Homo sapiens: one gene and its partner. The protein of the gene in region 1 interacts with the protein of each later gene in a pairwise test. Each region holds a gene or a part of one and is shown on either strand. Other genes may lie near its edges. The genes, in order: ACAP1 and IFFO1.

Region 1 (4,608 bases):
CTAGGCTCCACAAGCTTGACCTAGGTGATTGAGAACCCCGTAAGCACTGAAGTCCACCTACTGGACCACATGGGAGGCCCCTTTAGGGATCACAAGGCCACGGAGAGCTCCCTGATGGCAACAATGACAACATTGCAGCCTGTTGAGGGCACCAGGCCACCATCTCCCTGGGGCTGTCTCTTGGCAAGCTCCCATCTCCCAGCCCTCCAATTCTTTCAGGCCAGTACATCAGCAACAGGTGGAAGGAGAGGCCCTGAACAGCCTCAAGTCCAAGGTCCACATTGGACAGGCGAGGAACCAGGGAGACTCAGAGGCGGTTGGGACCCCCTCCAGCTTGGCACCACACACTGGCTCCATGCCTCCTCCTTCACTCCTCTGCCACACCACCCCACTCCAGGTATTTCTCTGTCCTCCAAAGACAGTGAGTCTCAAGTGGTGTCCAGCTGGTGGCTGGGGGGCTGAGCTGGCAAAGCCCAAGGAGTTCAGAGAGGGAGAGTGGAAGCAACCCCAACTCCTCAAGCCAGAACAAGCACAGCCTGGCACACTGAGCCTGGGCAGAGGCAAGGGGATGCATACACTGGCCAGGGAGGTAGAGGAGCTGAGTGGGGAGGTTCTAGGGGATCCAGAGTCACATGGACAAGATCTCATGCCTGCTACGAGAAAGCCATGAACTCAAACTCTTCTCTCCAGATGAAACCCTGGGACTTCAATGGACTCAAGAAAAGGAAAGCAAACAATGGAAAATGGGGCTGGTTGGGGGCGGAGTGGGGGCAACCTTCCCTTCATGACCACCCTATGAATAGAAATAAAGAGCAGAAGAGCAAGAGTCTGGGAGCTGTGAATCGGGTGCTCAGGCTGGGCCTGCTCAGTCGTTGAGGAGAGGGGAGGAGGAAGGGGAGTTCACACACAGGAACCATGAATATGACGGCAAAACGAAGAAAGCTGGGAGCAGTCCGGGGTACTGGACTCCACAGGAGCAGGCCCAAGCTGTAGCAGGATGACAATGACTGATGCAATTAATATAGTGAACCAGCTGGGCACAGTGGCTCACGCCTGTAATCCTAGCACTTTGGGAGGCCGAGGTGGGTGGATCACCTGAGGTCAGGAGGTCGAGACAAGTCTGACCAACAAGGTGAAACCCCGTCCCTACTGAAAATACAAAAAGTTAGCCGGGCATGATGGCAGGAGCCTGTAGTCCCAGCTACTCGGGAGGCTGAGACAGGAGAATTGCTTGAACCCAGGAGGCGGAGGTTGTAGTGAGCCGACATCGCGCCACTGCACTGCAGCCTGGGCGATGGAGGGAGACTCCGTCTCATAAATAAATAAATTTAGTGAACCATGAATTTACTGCTATCACCTTCTTCACTTCGTACAGCCCTGGAGGAAGGGGTTATCATTCCCATCTTCCAGATGAGAAAACTGAGGAATCAGAGAGCTCGTCCAGGGGCACATAACCTCTAAGTGACAGAGCCAGGATTTGAACCTAGATCTGCCAGGCCCCCAAGATAACCACGAAGAGAGAAAGAAACAGAGGCTAGAGCCCCAGGAGGAAGGAGCTGGCAGATCGTCTCTGAGGGTGGGGCTGTGGCTTCTCTGATCTCAGGCCCCCATCCTCCGCCCAGGCCCCGCCCCTGCCCCTCCCAGCACTGCCTGGAAGTGTGGGGTGAGAGCTCCTCCTAGGACACCCCTTTCCCCTTGGGGAAAGAATTGTGCCCCCAGGCCCTTCCCCGCGGAGGTCCCTCTCCTCCTTCCCCCTCATCTCCCCTTCCTGGGACAGAAAGTGCCTCCACCTGCATCCCCAGGGGCCCGGCCTCCAGGGCCCGCTGGCCCCACAGCAGGCAAGCTGAGATGACGGTCAAGCTGGATTTCGAGGAGTGTCTCAAGGACTCACCCCGTTTCCGGTAAGTGTGAACTGGTCTGGGGGGCTAAGGAGGGGAAAGTCTAACACCCCCAGCACACACACACCTTTCCCCAGGCCAGGTCTCCTTCCAGGGAGCAGGCCTCTAAGAGGCAGGAGCGAGCCTGTGGGCCAAAGTGGTACCCCAGCTGTGAAAGCAGGGTACTCCAATGCTCTCTGCCCCTGCATGCTCCTCCTGGCCTCTGCAGTTTCCCTCACCCCTAGAGCTGGCATTCCCTCTGGCCTCTCAGTGGGACCCCTGCCCCTCCCCCAGCACCTGCTCTGGGGCGGTTAGCAACTTCCTGCCCTGGCCACATCCACCCTCCTTCTACCCTTCCTGCTCTGGCCTGGGCTGTGGTAGCTCCCAGACTGCAGAGCGGGCAGAGCACAAGTAGGTGGGTGGGGGGCGAGCCTCTCAACTCTGCAGCTTTCTCCTCCGTACCCACCGCCCTGCGACTCCATCCCGCCTGATGAGGCAGACAGACCAGATGGACCCAAGCTCTCTTCCCATGACCCCCTCTTTCCCAGAGCCTCTATTGAGCTGGTGGAAGCCGAAGTGTCAGAATTGGAGACCCGTCTGGAAAAGGTGACCCTGACATGGAGAGGTGACCCAGGAGTGGATTAGGTTGAGAGGGGTAGGGCCAGGGAGAAAGCTGGAGACACAGAATGCATCCCAGGGATTATTGAATACTGTGTAGGGGAGATATTTTGGAGACTGCAGAGAAGCAAAAAAGGTGGTTCTGTACCGACAAGAAGCTCAGGATCTTGGAAAACAAGACTTACTTTTGGGCCAGGCATGGTAGCTCATGCCTGTAATCCCAGCACTTTGGGAGGCCAAGGTGAATGGATCACCTGAGGTCAGGAGTTCTAGACCAGCCTGGCTAACATGGCGAAACCCCATCTCTACTAAAAATGCAAAAATCATCCAGGCTTAGTGGCACCCATCTGTAGCTCCAGCTACTCAAGAGGCTGAGGCAGAGGAATCACTTGAACCTGGGAGGCGGAGGTTGCAGTGAGCCAAGATCGCACCACTGCACTCCAGGCTAGGCGACAGAGCGAGACTCTGTGTCAAAAAAAAAAAGACTTAATTTTGGACTTCCTTGTTCTGCTCTTGAGCTCCTGCATTGTGCCAGGCCCTGGGCATTCAGGGAGGACAAGATCATTTCTGCTCCCACGGAGCCCAAAGGCTGACTAGAAGACAAACCAGTGAAACGTTTCAATTCAAGACAGTAAGGTGTCCCCTGAGCACTCTATCAAACAGCATGTTCACACAAATACACACTCAAATGCTCTCTCATTCCCCTTACTTCGCTTTACTTTTCTCTGCAACATTTACCTCTGACACATTATGTATTTGCTTGCTATATATTAGTTCTCTATTGCTGTGTAACAAATTGTCACAAATTTAGTGGGCAACATTGTTTTATGGGCAACATGGTGAGACCTCATCTCTACAAATAATAATTTTATTTTTATTTTTATTTATTTGAGATGGAGTCTCGCTCTGTCACCCAGGCTGGAGTGCAGTGGTGCGATCTCGGCTTACTGGAACCTCCACCTCCCAGGTTCAAGTGATTCTCCTACCTCAGCCTCCCAAGTAGCTGGGATTACAGGTGTGCACCACCACACCTGGATAATTTTTTTTCTTTTTGTATTTTTAGTAAAGACAGGGTCTCACCATGTTGGCTAAGCTGGTCTTGAACTCCTGACCTCAAATGATCTACCTGCCGCAGCCTCCCAAAGTGCTGGCATTACAGGCTTAAGCCACCGCACCCGGCCTACAAATAATAATTTTAAACAATGGACTGGATGGAGTGGCCACAGCTGTGATCCCAGATGCTTCAATACTGGGCTCAAGTGATCCTCCCTCCTCAACCTCCCCAGTAGCTGTGCTACAGGCACATGCCACCACGCCTGGCTTTTTTAAATTTAAATTTATTTTTTGTAGAGATGGGGTCTCCCTATGTTACCTAGGCTGGTCTGGAACTCCTGGCCTCAAGTAATCCTCCCACCTCAGCCTCCCAAAGTGCTGGAATTACAGGTGTGAGCCACCACACCTGGCCTGAATTTTTTATTTTGAGTAAATTATTGACTCAGGAGACTAGTGAGGAGAGGTCTCATGTACCCATCACCCAGCTTCCCCCAGTGGTGACATCTTATACAATACTAGTACATTATTAAAACCAGGACATTAATAGTGTCACATTACAATTAACAATAAACTCGGCCAGGTGTGGTGGCTCACGCCTGTAATCCCAGCACTTTGGGAGGCCAAGGTGGGCGGATCACGAGGTCAGGAGATCGAAACCATCCTGGCTAACACTGTGAAACCCCGTCTCTACTAAAAATACAAAAAATTATTCGGGTGTGGCGGCAGGCGCCTGTAGTCCCAGCTACTCAGGAGGCTGAGGCAGGAGAATGGCGCGAACCCGGGAGGTGGAGCTTGCAGTGAGTGGAGGTCGTGCCACTGCACTCCAGCCTGGGCGACAGAGTGAGACTGTCTCAATAAACAAAAACAAACAAACAAAAAACCCCAATAAACTCTAGCCAAGCTCAGTGGCTCACGCCTGTAATCCCAGCACTTTGGTAGGCTGCGGCAGGTGGATCACGAGGTCAGGACTTCGAGAACAGCCTGACCAACATGATGAAACCCCCATCTCTACTAAAAATACAAAAATTAGCCAGGCGTGGTGGCACGCACCTGTAATCCC
Region 2 (3,810 bases), on another chromosome or scaffold:
TGTTTCTGTTCATGTCTCCCACCCACACATTCAATGCCTTTTCTATCTTAACTAAGCACTTAGCGTGCGCTGTGGCGGTACCTTTTGCAGTTCGAGGTGTGACAGCAAAACTGGCACAAATTTCTTTTTCCTTCTTTACAATTTCACGGATAGAAGATTCATTCTTACTGTAGAGCTTACCAACCTCAGCATCGGATTCTTTTTCTTATTAAGTTGAAAACTTTTACCTTTTCACTTAAAGGGAGCATATTTTGGCTTCTCTTTCACATATCCAAATTGCCAGCATCACTACTCTTGTGCTTTGGGGCCATTATGAAGTAAAAATAAGGGTTCCTTGAACACGGGCACTGCCATACCACGACAGTCAATCTCATCACTGAGATGGCTCCTAAGTAACTAATGGGCAGGCAGTATAGACAGTGTGGATCCTTGGGACAGAGGGAGGGTTCATGTCCTGGTCTGGATAGAGTGAGGTTTTTTTTTTTTTTTCCGAGACGGAGTCTCGCTGTGTCACCCAGGCTGGAGTGCAGTGGCTTGAACTCGGCTCACTGCAAGCTCCACCTCCTGGGTTCACGCCATTCTCCTGCCTCAGCCTCCTGAGTAGCTGGGACTACAGGCGCCCGCCATCACGCCCGGCTAATTTCTTTTGTATTTTTTAGTAGAGATGGGGTTTCACCGTGTTAGCCAGGATGATCTCGATCTCCTGACCTCATGATCCGCCCACCTCGGCCTCCCAAAGTGCTGGGATTATAGGCGTGAGCCACCGCGCCCGGCAGAGAGAGTGAGATTTTATCAGGCCACTCAGAACAGCGTGCAATTTAAAACTTAGGAATTGTTTATTTCTGGAATATTTCATTTAATATTTTCAGATCAAGGTTCACCTTGGGTACCTGAAGCCGTGGAAAGTGAAACCAGTGGATAAGGAGAGAGTGACTTTATTCTTTTCATTTATTTATTTATTTATTTATTTTTTTGAGACGTAGTCTCGCTGTGTCGCCCAGGCTGGAGTGCAGTGGCGCGATCTCAGCTCACTGCAAGCTCCACCTCCCAGGTTCACGCCATTCTCCTGCCTCAGCCTCCAGAGTAGCTGGGACTACAGGCGCCTGCCACTACGCCCGGCTAATTTTTTGTATTTTTTAGTAGAGACGGGGTTTCACCATGTTAGCCAGGATGGTCTCGATCTCCTGACCTCGTGATCCACCCGCCTCGGCCTTCCAAAGTGCTGGGATTACAGGCGTGAGCCACCGCGCCCGGCCTTGACTTTATTCTTATTGCTGTCACATTGGAGGTGTTTGAGAAGGAAGTCGAGAAATTATTTTCCTATATACTCATTCTCCCAACACACATCAAACTGTCCTGCTCCTGCATCAAACCTGGTTTTCTTGGCCAGGTAGATGAGGTTTCCTGGATTTGTGCTGCTAGCTAAAGACATGGCAAGGGAAACCAGTACTCCCCACCCTCCCGTCTACCGCGGCTCACTGTTTCCTCCTCCTGCCTGACCTGATTCTTGTCTCCCTCTTTTGGATGGTGGATTTAAGGTTTGTGTTTTCACTGTGCCTTCAACCAACTAGGGGCCTTTGTGCGGCCATCTTCGTGAGAAGAGATCTCGGGCTGCCATCTCTCCCTAGTCTTCCCTGGACCTCAAGTGCCCAGTGTAAAACATGATCTGAAAGAACGAAAATAATATCTTAAATGGAATCATGCCTTTTAAGCTATTTTTGGCTGGGCGTGGTGGCTCTCGCCTGTAATCCCAGCACTTTGGGAGGCCAACGCGGGCAGATCACTTGAGGTCAGGAGTGTGAGACCAGCCTGGCCACCAACATGTGAAACCCCGTCTCTACTAAAAATACAAAAAGTAGCCAGGCATTGTGGTGGGCACCTGTAATCCCAGCTACTTGGGAGGCTGAGGCAGGAGAATTGCTGGAATCTGGGAGGTGGAGGCTGCAGTGAGCTGAGATTGTGCCACTGCACCACAGCCTGGGTGACAGAGCAAGATTCCATCTCAGGAAAAAAAAAAAAAAAAGTATTTTCAAATCATCTGACTCCTCCTCTCTCCCAGTGCAATGACTTTAGGCAGCAGTCCCCAACCTTTTTGGTACCAGGGACTGGTTTGTGGAAGACAGTTTTTCCACTGACCCGGGGGAAATGATTTTGAGATGATTCAAACATTACATTTATTGTGTACTTTATTACTATTTTTAAAAATTATTATTATTATTTTTAGAGACAGAGTTTTGCTCTTGTTGCCCAGGCTGGAGTGCAATGGCGCAATCTTGGCTCACTGCAGCCTCCGCCTCCCGGGCTCAAGCAATTCTCCTGCCTCAGCCTCCCAAGTAGCTGGGATTACGGGCATGTGCCACCACGCCTGGCTAATTTTGTATTTTTAGTAGAGATGGGGTTTCTCCATGTTGGTCAAGCTGGTCTCGAACTCCCGACCTCAGGTGATCCACCACCTCGGCCTCCCAAAGTGCTGGGATTACAGGCATGAGCCACCGCACCCGGCCTGTGCACTTTATTTCTATTATTATTACATTATAATATATAATGAAATAATTATACATCTCACCATAATGTAGAATCAGTGGGAGCCATGAACTTGTTTTCCGCAACTAGACGGTCCCATCTGGGGGTGATGGGAGATAGTGACAGATCATCAGGCATTAGATTCTCATAAGGAGCACACAGCCTAGATCCCTCGCATGCACAGTTCACGTAAGGTAGGGTTCAGGATCCTGTGAGAATCTAATGCCGCCGCGGATCTGACAGGAGGTGGAGCTCAGGCTGTAATGCCAGTGATGGGGAGCAGCTGTAAATACAGATGAAGCTTCACTCACTTGCCCACTGCTCACCTCCTGCTATTTGGCCTGGTTCCTAACAGGCCACAGACAGGTACTGGTCCGTGGCCTGGGGTTTGGGGACTTCTGCATTAGGGGAACCGTTAGGAGGACTTGCTGACCTCAGGAGTACCCAAGGTGCCTTTATCTTTGTGACCTTTGATCTCTCAGGGTCACTAAGATGGAGCAAGGTAAAGCCAAGGCCCAGAGTGGTGGGCGGGAGGCAGTTCTTCCCCACCGCTCCTCACCTCTCTCTGTCTCCTCCCGTCCCACCCCCAAGTCTGTTCACACAGCGAGCCTGCAGTTTTCAAGGTGGCTTGTCAAGGACATCTCCTGACATGCACGTTCACCTCCTGACCTTGTTCCTGCTGTAAATTTGTGAATTAAGTGGGGACATAGACATATGCAGAGACTACTGGTGGCAGTACTAGCCTTGTATTTCAGTAGAATATATTTGGTTCATTTCCTTCTTCCCAGTCTCCCTGAGTGATGGTTCCAGAACCCAGCTCCCTGCACTCCGGTTCTTCCAAGGTGGAGAAATTGGGGTGTAGGCAGCTGATCTGAACAAGGGCTGGTGGCACTGTATTTTCCCCCTGGGTTGAACAGTCACCGTGTCCTGCTCCTCCCACTACTGTGGGGCCCCAGCTGTGGATCCAAGCCTGCCAGGGAAGCTGTCCCCACTAGGGCTTCTCACCCAGCCAGCCGCCATCTCACCCCAAATGTCACTGTCCTGACCATCTCTGCTGTCTGGCCCTGTAACCTGTTTCCTTCTTTCTCTAAGTTCCCACCCTCTCTGTCCAATCCACATTATGGCAGCTGGTATCCTCCCCGTTCTCTTCACTCAGGCAGTCACGAACGTCATCTCCAGGAAGTTTCATTTTGCTTCCCCTTGCGGCCCCTGCCCTTTGTACCCAAAACAAAGAGAGGCAGTCGACTGTCCCTGGCACTGAGTTTGTGCTGCCTGGGCCCTGCCTCT

The links.
Region 2: the proteins of ACAP1 (region 1) and IFFO1 interact in a two-hybrid assay, tested with the Homo sapiens proteins (one large-scale study listed by BioGRID and IntAct).

The regions. Positions count from the first base shown.
Region 1 is NC_000017.11:7,334,887-7,339,494, forward strand, and holds the start of ACAP1 (arf-GAP with coiled-coil, ANK repeat and PH domain-containing protein 1), read left to right. Parts: upstream 1-1,642; 5' UTR 1,643-1,848; coding exon 1,849-1,901; intron 1,902-2,376; exon of another isoform or gene 2,377-2,425; coding exon 2,426-2,483; intron 2,484-4,608. UniProt on the Homo sapiens protein: GTPase-activating protein (GAP) for ADP ribosylation factor 6 (ARF6) required for clathrin-dependent export of proteins from recycling endosomes to trans-Golgi network and cell surface.
Region 2 is NC_000012.12:6,542,379-6,546,188, reverse strand, and holds part of IFFO1 (non-homologous end joining factor IFFO1), read left to right. Parts: intron 1-3,810. UniProt on the Homo sapiens protein: Nuclear matrix protein involved in the immobilization of broken DNA ends and the suppression of chromosome translocation during DNA double-strand breaks (DSBs).